Regions from separate parts of the Homo sapiens genome. Here regions 2 and 3 are each linked to region 1. The links come from fine-mapping of genetic effects on gene expression. A gene starts in region 1. Each other region holds a variant in brackets. All regions are shown on one strand. Distances are between the middles of the regions.

Region 1 (4,140 bases):
AGTGATTGCACCACTGCACTCCAGCCTGGGCAACAGAGCGAGAGCCTGGCTCGAAAAAAATAGCTGGCCATAGCAGTGGAGATAGGTTCCCCATGGGGCGGGTGGCAGTCAGCCTGAAAGCCAGGTCATTCCAGCAGGATGACTTCATCCCAGGGTTCTTCTCACTTCCCAGGTTCCTGGTGTTCATCGTGCAGGAAACACTGCAAACAGCTGGGGAGATGGGAATACTTGACAACCACCTTTCACGTCCAGAGATGACCAACTAGGAACTGTCCTCCCCCATCACCCACACCCCAGCACAGTGATTACTCAGCCAAATGCCTGCAGGGCCAGCAGGTAACACCCATGACTGAAGGTGGCGGGGCAAATATTACAACAGGGAGAGGTGGAACAAATTTGGGCTCATATGCCCTAGATAAGAGGATGACCACTGCCCAATTCCAACTGGGAAAGCAGGCCCCGTGTTGCCAGACCTTCAGATTTTTCCAGATAAACTGGAAATCTAGAGATGTTATTGTTTTTAAATGGTTGGTTAAAAAAAAAAAAGCAAAATAAAATTGTATGAGCCTAATAATTAGGAACTCTTGGCACTTGCTGCTAAGAAGCTCCAGCATACTTTACAACCCATCTCCAGAAACGTGCAAGAGGAGACCCGTTGGGTGGAGCAGACCCGGGAACACAAAAAGTAGCGCTCTGCCTGCATCCTGGCAAACTTCACCACCTCCTGGCTCCATCTCCTCTCCCTGCACCCCAGCCTCCTCCCAGCTTGTCACACTCCCAGCACACAGTAGGCATGCACAGTAGGCATGCTGGTGAATTAAATTCAAATATATATAAATAGTTCAATCTTTTTACATTCTACATATTTTTGTAAGCACCCCTCCAATTCTTTTTTCGTAGCAAAGCAGACCATAGATGAAGCATTTCAGACCTTTTGTCAATCATGTCAAGTGTGAGGGGAAGTCTTTTGTAAGTCAGCCAAGTATTTCAAAATAAAAAGCTTTTCCAAAAGTAAAGGCGGAAGACCCCGCTTTGAAGGCGCTGGTCGGCACAGGAAGACTTGCAAAGGTGTGTAGGGAAGTCCACCGGTTACAGGTGTAAGGCGAGTTCAACCTTGGGCAGAGGGAGGAGAAAAATAAAGTGGGAGTCTCGAGTTTGAGCACCAGCGTATCAGTTACTACTAAAACCAGAACGCGAATTTACATCCGACGCTTAAAAAAAAAAATCACTTTCCCGGCACACGTGCCTCTTTACTTTGCCCCCGCACGTCGGCTCGGCTCGGCTCCTCTGCAGCCTCACCGGCTGCCCACCCCAGGAGGCTGGGGGTATCTCGCCCCGCACCGGGCGCCCGGGAAAACTCCTTCCTGCAAAGACGGCCGAGCTGCGAGCAGGAAACCAAGACCCTCCTGGGGCAGCTTCTAGGCTGGGGCCACCACGGATCCGGGCGGAGTCGGAGGGAATTGGGTCTCTCGCTGTCCCCTCCCCACCGCTGACTGGGAAAACTCAACTTTTCCCTCCAGATCGCGGCCCCTTACCTACGGCGACCCAGCCGGCCAGGAGCGCCCCGAGGCAGACGAGGACGCGGGGCTCGGGCGCACTGCCGCCTGCGGCCATCTCGCCCCAGATCCCGGCTCAGGAAACGCAGGCTCGGGCTGGGCTGGACGTGTGTGCCCCAGGGCCCCGGGGCCCGGGGTACCGAGGGCTCCTCCCAGGTCCTCGGAACGGCAGAGTGGCCCCACTTCCTCGGCCCCCAGGAAGGATGCTTGGCTGAGCCGAGTGTCCAGGGCCGGCAGCGGAGCTCGGCTGCAGGCTCGGGTCCCCGCTCCCGAGCGCCCTGGCCGGGGAGGGAGGGCGCACCCCGCCCCCTGCGCCCGCCAGCCTACTCCTGCCGGCGGAAAACAACAGGAGCGGGATCCCTCCCGCCTCCCAGCCAGGCGGGAGCCCAACTTCCTCTACCTTGGCCCGGGAGGAGGGCTTTCTGCCGAGGGCGCGCCGAGCCGGGTCCCGCCGGGCCAGGGGCGGGGCGCGGAGGCTGGGCCCTCCCCAGTCCACTCCGCCCGGGACAGCAGTACCGAGTCGCGGGGACAGCGGGCGGGACGGAGCCCTGCAGCTGCCGCAGGACGCAACCCCCGCCGCTGCCCCGGGCTGCAGAACCCGGAGGAAGCGGTTGCCAAGCTGCAGAACGCAGGACCCCCCTGGCAGTCCCCGCTGAGCGTCTCGAGGGATTCCGGTCTGTGTCCCTGGGCGCAGGGCGGGCGCCAAGGCCGCCATCGCTTCCTTTCCTTACCCTCTGCAAAAGGGAGCCAGAGAAAGATGATCCCCTGACTTTCAGCCAAAGCAGCCACGAGACTCCGGTTCTCCAGTGAACTGGCTGGGACCACACAGTGACAGCGAGAGCCAAGGAGTCCCCAGGACGTGTTTCTCAAGAGTTTTGTTTTTGCTTTTCCCCTTTTAGTTCTCCCACCCCTTACCCAGTCAGATTCCCAGGCTAAGCTCCTCTCTTCCCTGCCATGCCCTCATCCCATTCTGTCCTGGGGAAAATGCGGCTTTGATATCCTCAGGAAGAGCCATCCATAAAACAGCCCTAGGAGAAACTTCCTGTTTCAAATAATAATAATATGGCAGGGCGTGGTGGCTCACACCTGTAATCCCAGCACTTTGGGAGGCCGAGGTGGGCGGATCACAAGGTCAGGAGTTCGAGACCAGCCTGACCAACATGGTGAAACCCTGTCTCTACTAAAAATACAACAATTAGCCGGGCATGATGGCGGGCGCCTGTAATCCCAGCTACTGGGTAGGCTGAGGCAGGAGAATCGCTTGAACCCAGCAGGCGGAGGTTGCAGTGAGCCGATATCACGCCATTGCACTCCAGCCTGGGCGACTGAGCGAGACTCCATCTCAAAATAAATATTAACGTTAAAAAAAAATCATTAGTTCTGTTGTTCAACGGTCCCCTTATTGAAATGCTTCTTCCATGAGGAAATCCTCTTGAAACCACTTTAAAAAAAAAATGTTTCTCCTGGTGAACTGAGCAATGAAGCTGAACAGTTCTGCCTTTTTTACTTTTCTGTTTTTTATTTTTTTGAGACAGGGTGTCACTCCAGTTGCCCAGGCTAGAGTGCAGTAGCACAATCATACCTCGCTGCAGCCTCAAACTACCAGGCTCAAGTGATCCTCCCACCTCAGCCTCCCGAGTAGCTGGGACTACAGGTGTGCAGCACCACGCCCAGCTAATTTTTGTAATTTTAGTAAAGACAGCGTTTCTCCATGTTACCCAGGCTGGTCTCGAACTCCTGACCTCAAGTGATCCACCCGCCTTGGCCTGCCAAAGTGTTGGGATTACAGGTGCGAGCCACCGCGCTCAGCCCTTTTTTATTCTTTGCTCAAATATTTTTAAATAACTGTTCATCAGCCGGGCACGTTGGCTCATGCCTGTAATCCCAGCACTTTGGGAGGCCGAGGCAGGTGGATCACCTGAGGTAAGGAGTTCGAGAGTAGCCTGGCCAACATGGTGAAACTTCGTCTCTACTAAAAATACAAAAATTAGCCCGGTGTGGTGGCAGGCGCCTGTAATCCCAGCTACTTGGGAGGCTGAGGCAGGAGAATCGCTTGAACCCAGGAGGTGGAGGTTGCAGTGAGCCGAGATCGCGCCATTGCACTCCAGCCTGGGGAGAAGAGCGAGACTTCGTCTCAAAAAAAATAAATAAATAAAAAATAAAATAAAATAACTGTTCATCAGATTCTTGACAGGAATTTTGTTTGTTTGTTTTTTGAGACGGAGTCTCGCTCTGTCGCTGCAAGCTCCGCCTCCCAGGCTCATGCCATTCTCCTGCCTCAGCCTCCCAAGTAGCTGGGACTACAGGCTCCTGCCACCACGCCCGGATAATTTTTGTATTTTTAGTGGAGACGGGGTTTCACCGTGTTAGTGTGGGGAAAAGCAAGAGAGATCAGATTGTTACTGTGTCTGTGTAGAAAGAAGTAGACATGGGAGACTCCATTTTGTTATGTACTAAGAAAAATTCTTCTGCCTTGAGATTCTGTGACCTTACCCCCAACCCCGTGCTCTCTGAAACATGTGCTGTGTCAAACTCAGGGTTAAATGGATTAAGGGCGGTGCAAGATGTGCTTTGTTAAACAGAT
Region 2 (4,140 bases), 33 kb before region 1:
CACCCAAGTAGCTGGGACTACAGGCATGCGCCACCACATCTGGCTAATTTTTGTATTTTTAGTAGAGACATGGTTTCAACATGTTGGCCAGGCTGGTCTCGAATGCCTGGCCTCAAGTGATCCAACCACCTTGGCCTCCCAGAGTGCTGAGATTATAGGCATGAGCCACTGTTGTGCCCGGCCTGGACTGTGCATTTCTTCTTCTTCTTCTTCTTCTTTTTTTTTTTTTTTTTGAGACAGAGTTTCATTCTTGTTGCCCAGGCTGGAGTGCAATGGCACAATCATGGCTCACCGCAACCTCTGCCTCCCAGGTTCAAGCAATTCTCCTGCTTCAACCTCCCAAGCAGCTGGGATTACAGGCATGCGCCACTACATGCGGCTAATTTTTTGTATTTTTAGTAGAGATGGGGTTTCTGCATGTTGGTCAGGCTGGTCTCGAACTCCCGACCTCAGGTGATCCACCCGCCTCGGCCTCCCAAAGTGCTGGGATTACAGGCGTGAGCCACTGCACCCGGCCTGGACTATGCATTTCTTAAGGAAGAAGAATGAACGCCACAGGTCAGTCACCTGCCCGAGGAGCTGTGTTACATTGTCATTTAATCTTCACAAACCCCCTGGTGAAACAAATCAGGAGACTAAGGCTCAGAAAGGGTCAGGGATTTTCTATGGGTACAGGGCTTGGGAATGGCACAGCTGTCATTTGAACCCAGGTCCAATGGTCTCAGTGCCTTTTCCTACTACACCACACTGATGCCTCCAGTGAGAAATAAGCCCAGGGAATGACAGACTTACTAAGAATGGCCCTCCAATACAGGGCAGTAAAGGTAATGTTTTGCTACGAAAGATGGTCCCAGGTCAATAATATCCTGTCATTTTGAAGAGGTAAAGAACTGTTTTTCCATAGGATCATAGAGAAGAGTACTCTGCTCCCACCCAGAATCTCCTTAGGAAATGAAATACACAAGTTCCGTTTGGTTCCTTCGCCCCTACTGGGGTTTCCTTTTGGGAGGGGGTTCTGGGCATGCTCATAGTAGTCTTCCAAAACACTGTAAAACTGGCTGGGTGCAGTGGCTCGTGCCTGTAATCCCGGCACTTTGGGAGGCCGAGGCGGGCAGACCACTTGAGGCCAGGAGTTTGAGACTAGCCTGGGCAACATGGTGAAACCCTGTCTCTACTAAAAATACAAAAATTAGCCAGGCTTGATGGTGCGCACCTGTAATCCCAACTACTCGGAAGGCTGAGGCAGGAGAATGGCCTCAACCTGGGAGGTAGGGATTGCAGTGAGCTGAGACTGCACCACTGCACTCCAGCCTGAGCAAGAGAGAGAGATTCTGTCTCAAAAAAAAAAAAAAAAAGAAAAAAGAAAAAGAAAAAAAAACTTAAGACTATGACTGATTCTTTCTTTTAGCTCTTTTTAGAAAATTAAATAAAACAAATGCATGAATGACTGGCTCAAAATGTACACATTGTCTTTCTGTCTCAATGACAGACCTGCAATGTGTCCAGCCCTGAGGTTTGGCGCTGTAAAAGAACACAGACTTTGGAATTGATTAGACCTGGACCTGAAGGAAGGCACTGCTGCTTTCTTCTGGAATGAGCTTGCAGAAATTACTTCACTGAGCCTCCATCCCCTTATCTGGAAAATGGAGATGTCACCACCACCCTGAGGAGATGATGAAAGGGTTTATAAGAATACCTGATGAAATCCCTAGGCCAGTGTCTAGCACATCGTAGGTCCTCAATGGTAGTTGCTATTATTGTTCTTGTGAAAGGAAGGGAAC[A/G]AAACAGAAGTGAAGACAGATGCGGGAATGGGTGTTTGGTTTGATTCTAGGGAACACTCACCTGGAAGTGTTTCCTACTGAAGAGAGAAAGGAAAAACCATTAATATCCAGTAACATCCACTTCAACCTGACAGGTTCTTAATCAGGCAAACATTTACTAGAGGAACAAATAAGAAAACTGACTCAATATGACAGGTGATAGGGTGTCCCGGGATGGTACTTAGGTGACTTATTACTGTGTATCTTGACCCAGCAAAGAAGCCCAGAGAACAGAACTTCAGGTGGGAGCAAGGCAGGGGCCATCCTTCCCCATCCCGCACCTTTTCAAAAGTCTGGAAGAGAAGCTAAAGGACCCAGGGAGTCCTTACCTTTCCAGCAGAACACAGGGCTATAATGCAACAGAAGCCCTGAGATAATGGCCAGTCCCAGCAGAAGGAGGCTCACAATGGTTCCCACAATCCCCCCGATATTTAAAGGTTCTGTAAAGACAAATCACACCATTGATTCTTCCATCAGATATGTGTGCAATTAGAACAACACCTCCCTTTCTCTGCGTGGATCCAGTTCTTGTCTTGATTCCTGACCTTGGGTAAGGCTTATGACCTGTCTGTAATGCCAGATAAATATTTTATCACCCAACCTCAGAGAGTTTGTGGGGATCAGATGGAGCAGGGAATGTGAACAAACAATGGAAAGTTAAAATCTCTCTGTCTACCAAACACTGAGACTATTTCTAAGGCCATGGTAAGTAAGAGTGTTGAGAGTTATCAATGCCATGATAAACAGAGTGATCAACGGAACAGAACAGAGAGTCCAGGAACGGGTCCACACGTAAGTATAATTGATATATGACAGGGTCTTGAGCAAAGGAAGCACTATTTAAGAATTGGTACTAGAGCCCGGGCGCAGTGGCGCATGCCTGTAATCCCAGCACTTTGGGAGGCTGAGGAGGGCGGATCACCTGAAGTCGGGAGATCGAGACCAGCCTGACCAACATGTTAAAACCCCGTCTCTACTAAAAATACAAAATTAGCCAGGTGTGGTGGTGCATGTCTGTAATCCCAGCTACTTGGGAGGCTGAGGCAGGAGAATCACTTGAACCCGGGAGGCGGGGGTTGCGGTGAGCCAAGATCGCGCCATTGCACTCCAGCCTGGGCAACAAGAGCGAAATTCCATCTCAAAGAAAGAAAGAGGGCCGGGCGCGGTGGCTCACGCCTGTAATCCCAGCACTTTGGGAGGCCGAGGCAGGCGGATCACGAGGTCAGGAGGTCGAGACCATCCTGGCTAACACAGTGAAACCCCATCTCTACTAAAAATACAAAAAATTAGCCGGGCACAGCGGCGGGCGCCTGCAGTCCCAGCTACTTGGGAGGCTGAGGCAGGAGAATGGCATGAACCCAGGAGGTGGAGCTTGCAGTGAGCCGAGATCGCACCACTGCACTCCAGCCTGGGTGACAGAGCAAGACTCCGTCTCAAAAAAAAAAAAGAAAGAAAGAGGAGGGGAGGGGAGGGAAAGAAAAGAAGGAAGGTAGGAAAGGGAAAAGGGAGAAGAGAAAGGAAAAGGGAGAAGGGAAGGGAAGAAAGAGGCCAGGTGTGGTGGCTCATGCTTGCAATCTCAACACTTTGGGAGGCTGAGATGGGAGGCTCACTTCAGGCCAGGAGTTCAAGACCAACCTGGTCAACACAGTGCGACCTCATCTGTATAAAAAATAAAATAAAAAGAAATAAGTAGAGACATATATAGTAAAACTTAAAATTCAGGACCATGGTTACCTTTCGAGAGAGGCCCAAGATGAGACTAGGCCTACAGGGAGGGTTCCCAGGTAAAATTCAGTATGCCCAGTGAAATTTGGATTTCAGATAAACAATGAATAGTTTTTTTAGTGTAAGTATGTCTCATGAAATATTTGGGACACACTTATACTTAAAAGTATTTATTTTTCTAAACTCAAATTTAAGCAGGCATCCTGTTTTTAAAGTTCTATTGCTATTTTCTTCTTTTTGAAGTGGATTCTCGCTCTGTCACCCAAGCTGAAGTGCAGTGGTGTGATCTCGGCTCACTGCAACCTTCGCCTCCCAGATTCAAGCAATTCTGCCTCAGACTTCCGAGTAGCTGGGATTACAGGCACCTGCCACCATGCTCAGCTAATGGTCTCGAACTCCCAACCTCAGGTGATCTGCCCATCTCAGCCTCCCAAGTAATTTTGTATTTTTAGTAAAGACGAGGTTTCACCATACTAGCCAGGCTGGTCTCAAACTCCTGGCCTCAAGTGATCCACCCGCCTCGGCCTCCCAAAGTGCTGGGATTACAGGCGTGAGCCACTGTGCCCAGCCCTATCGTTGTTTCCAAATCTGGCCC
Region 3 (4,000 bases), 41 kb before region 1:
GGGGGTGTTGGAGAGTGGTAGAGCCGGGCTGAGAGAAAAACCAAGCAGGGGAAGCGGCGATCCGGGGAGAACGGAGAGAGGGAGACCGAGGGCTGTGGGGGTAAGGGGAACCAAAGGGGCTGAAGCGAAATCGAGGGGAGGGGCAGGTGAAAATGGAGCCATGCGAAGGCCGATGAGGGGGGAAACGGGTAAAAATGGGGGCGGGAGAAATAGGTTGGAGGGAATACTGGCCGAGAAGAAACCTGGGGAGAGCTGGGCTTAGGGGAAAATGGGGAGGGGGTGGAAGGAAGGTGTAATAACCGGGTGCTGGGGAGGACGTAAGAATTGGGGGGTGCGGCGAGGGTCAAGGCTAGGGTAAAACAAGGGGGGCTACTCAATGGCTCCGGTAATGGGAGAGGGAAGTGAGGAGAACACGGGGCGGTGGGGAGAGGAGGGCAGGGTGAAAACCGGAGTGGGGGTGGGAACGAGATAAAAAACGGGGCAGGAGCGATTCGGAAGAAGACTGTCCCCTTACCTACCTACGGCGACAGCCTCGCCTGTCCCCGTCCCCCTGAGAAACCTGCTCTCCCTGTCTACCCGCATAGCCTCAAGAAATGGCTCGCTTGGGTCAGACGCCCCCTTTTTAACATTCCAGGGCCAGGGCAGGAGTCATCATGGAGGCTTTTCATGCCTGAAAGACCCCATTTCTTAGTTGTCCGGTCCCCAGTAGTATCAGTGGCTTGGGGATTTCTTACTGAGCTCAGCTCATTGTCCCCAAAATGCCTCCCCTTACCCCCAACTCGAGCGCTTCCCTTTCCTGCTTTGGGCCCAAGCTCTTCCCGCGGTTCTTGGTGTCAGCTTCATTCAAGTCACTCTCCCGCCTCTCATTCCTTTCTCCCCGCCTTTCTTCGCTTCCCTCCAAGTGCCCTCTCCATTTGCCGGTCACTGGTCCCAGAGCTCCGGATCGCAGTGGTTCCATTTTAAATTTCTTTGCTTCCTAACGCAACCTATGTTTTCTACGGTAACTGAGGTTCCCGTGTTCTTTTTCACCATGGTCTCTCCGTTTTAATGTTTCGGGTTTTTTTACCCAGGCCCCTGTTTTATGAGCCCTGGGTACGTCCTTCCTGTGTCCCGTTTGGCCTCCTGGGTTACACTCCTGTTCACCCCGCTTGGCCGGTTTTTTTTTTTCTTTTCTTTGAACCTGCCGGTTTCTCAGTCTCCCCCTTTTCCGCTGGCTACCTGTCCCTTTCTCGCCGCCCATGTTAACTTTAGCATGCCCCGTTCTCTCTCTTCATTTTCCACTGGGTATTTTTTATGTTTCCCAATTTTAAAAACGGCCCAGCGCACCCCTTTTTTTGGGACTCCACTTTTATCTCTGGCACCAGTGTCGGCCTCCTCCACCTCTGCTCCCATTTAATCGCTAATTTCCTGCCTCCTGAGGACCCCCGTTTTATTGTCCAGGCTCCCCCCTCCCATTTTTCTCTTCTCTAATTTTCTGAGTCTCCATTTTTTGTCTCCCAAATTCCTTCGATTCCTGGAGTCTTACAGGCCTCGTTTTTATGTACACGTCATGGAAAAGAATAAAAGGGTAAGGTCGCGGGGCGCGATGGCTCATGCCTGTAATCCCAGCACTTTGGGAGGCCAAGGCGGGCAGATCACCTGAGGTCAGGAGTTCGAGACCAGCCTGGCCGATATGGCCAAACCCAATCTCTACTAAAAATACAAAAATTAGCTGGGTGTGGTGGCGGGCACCTGTAAACCCGGCTACTCGGGAGACTGAGGCAGGAGAATCACTTGAACCCAGGAGGTGGAGGTTGCAGTGAGCTGAGATCTTGCCATTGCACACCAGCCTGGGTGATGGAGGCTCCGTCTGGAGGAAAAAAAAAAAAAAAAAACAAAAAAGGCGGGGCTGAGGTGAGAAGAATATTGTTACCAATTTTTAAAAAGCTAGTAAAAAAAATTTTTTTTGGCAAGTTCGTTTTTCCAAGTCTTTCAATTTACTAACCAGGTCTCAATCAAGATCACAAAAGCACTTACTTAAAAATAGCTTTATTCCATTATCTTTTAAAAAAGGCATATGATAACCTCAGAACTAATTTCTCCCAACCTCCCCCCACCACATCTTAAAATGTAAATAATGGAGAAGGAGCTGCTTATTTTTCTTTGCAGCAGTTCCTGGCCAGTCCCAACGTGAGAAATATCAGTTGGCACTTATTGCATCATAATACATTTT[G/A]CCTAGTAAGGATGATTTTCTAAGTCTCAGTGCATGGGTTATTGCAATTTTCCATCTTGTGTTTTCCTGCGGCAATTATGGGGCTTGTATGTGCTTGTGAGAATTGGGGCTAATATCAAAGCCACAGAATTGTGGAGGCCCCCTTCCCAGGCTCCACCAGGGTTTGAGAAAAACAAGAAAAAAGTCAGTTGCAATGGACCTGAAGTGTGTATCTTCCTGGTCCTGATAAATAGATCTCATGGTCTCTAAGTTAACAATACATGCAGATAAGATTTTTTTTAAAGCACAGTGTAACAACTTGGACTTTGCCACACAAACTGTAATCCACTGTCAACAAGCTTGTGGATTTGGGCATGGATCGTCTTAAAGAAGCCCGAATTCTTCAAAAAATCCTTAAAACTTGAAGACCTGGATTTTACCTGACCCAGGATATTACTGTGCACACAGGACTCAGATATGTGACAGCAGTCACAGCTCAGCTGGTCAAAGGTTTATAGTGTTTGACACCAGGACCATGAAGCTCCCATTTGGTAGTGGAAAAACCCTCAAATATTTCCTATCAACAGATGTGTGTGCTAGAGAAGAGGAAGTTGTGGAAAATATCCCAGTGATCCTACAAAACATTCTCTGTGTTCCTAGCTAGGGTTTTTTTTTTTTTTCACCTCAACAGTTTTTGTGTTTTCTTTTTTTAATCTTGTTGCCTCTGAGTAGTAGACTCTTCAATTCTGGAATTTGGTTGCCGAAGACTCTAAAGGAGAGACTCACTCAGTAATTCAGTGACTTTAGAAGCAAGCTGAGTATCTCATTCTAAAATGACACTGATTTACACTGTTGAGAATGGTTAAGTACGTGGGGTACCTTGCAGCAAAAGACAAAAAGCAAAAAGCCAGTAGACCTGCAATTCACAGCTATTCCTGAGGGGTGCACATTGCAGCCCACTCTTGAGCTCCCCAGTGTTCTGAGCAGGGGACAGGGCATACTTCTAGTGATTTGCTCAGTTTAATCCCTTCATCCAAGAAAACAGACCTTCCCCAACCACACCTGCAGGGTTACTTCAGACAACCAGCTTCTCATTTTAGAGTCCCAGTTCCTAGAATTGGAGAAAGGAAGTTCCCCTTTAAGCCCTAGGTCCTGCCCACTAGAGCAGATACGCAACATTAAAGAGTGCAAATTCAAGTCAGTTTTTCATATTTAGCAAACATCCATTGCACCCTTATAAGGTCCTCGACTTTAAGAAATTTATATGAAATCGGAAAACTTAAATCTTGAAACTATACAAGGATCTACTGGAAGCATCAGCAGGCTAAACTCATCACATGGTATTTTCATTCCAAATTTAGTGTTATTGATCAGTGTACCCTCAGAATATCCTTAAGAAGCAGGAAGGAAACAAGTTTTCCTCTTCCCACTTCCAAGACTGAGAAAGAGTCCAGATGAGCTGGTTTGCCCAAGCAATTCTTATCACCAGATACTCCGTTATTAAACGTGTCTCCTGCCTTCTTTGAAAGCAACAGGAGAAATGAAGCATAGGAAAGTCTGCAAGCTAACAGTGTATCACCTAGGAGGCTTGTATATAAATATGAAGCTCTGCAAAATGTAGTTATAATGAAAGGCACTTCCTATTACCAGCTCCCTAACTCTTTTTAAAAGAATTCTATCTCCAGGGAAATAAAACTGGTTAAGACAGTGCTCTGATATGCTTAGTTTAGTTCCTTCATCCAAGAAAACAGACCTTCCCCAACCACACCTGCAGGGTTACTTCAGACAACCAGCTTCTCATTTTAGAGT

What was found. PIP is the estimated chance that this variant, and not a neighbour inherited with it, causes the effect.
Region 2: its variant is fine-mapped to the expression of VSIG10 in whole blood (TOPMed, PIP above 0.99). The same link has a PIP of 0.9 or more in breast and unexposed skin.
Region 3: its variant is fine-mapped to the expression of VSIG10 in whole blood (TOPMed, PIP above 0.99). The same link has a PIP of 0.9 or more in blood mononuclear cells, monocytes, monocytes after LPS, monocytes after Pam3CSK4, monocytes after R848 and monocytes after interferon gamma.

Annotation. Positions count from the first base shown.
Region 1 is chr12:118,102,058-118,106,197 of GRCh38, forward strand. VSIG10 (V-set and immunoglobulin domain containing 10) reads right to left here and starts at 1,954. Exons shown (of 9, transcript NM_019086.6): 1 at 1,536-1,954. The coding sequence starts at 1,614. It overlaps LOC124903029 (a long non-coding RNA gene), which reads right to left and starts at 1,525. Exons shown (of 2, transcript XR_007063478.1): 1 at 932-1,525; 2 at 1-210. RefSeq lists a silencer at 1,798-2,047 and an enhancer at 3,689-4,140.
Region 2 is chr12:118,069,210-118,073,349 of GRCh38, forward strand. VSIG10 (V-set and immunoglobulin domain containing 10) reads right to left here. Exons shown (of 9, transcript NM_019086.6): 6 at 2,150-2,260; 7 at 1,843-1,858. All of the region lies in intron 1 of LOC124903030 (a long non-coding RNA gene), which reads left to right. Among named protein-coding and RNA genes, the nearest start is that of WSB2, 10 kb to the left of the region's middle. The variant A/G (reference allele first, on the strand shown) is at 1,782.
Region 3 is chr12:118,061,581-118,065,580 of GRCh38, forward strand. It overlaps VSIG10 (V-set and immunoglobulin domain containing 10), which reads right to left. Exons shown (of 9, transcript NM_019086.6): 9 at 2,013-4,000. It overlaps LOC124903030 (a long non-coding RNA gene), which reads left to right. Exons shown (of 2, transcript XR_007063479.1): 1 at 1-100. It also overlaps a transcript of WSB2 not described here. Among named protein-coding and RNA genes, the nearest start is that of WSB2, 2.4 kb to the left of the region's middle. The variant G/A (reference allele first, on the strand shown) is at 2,213.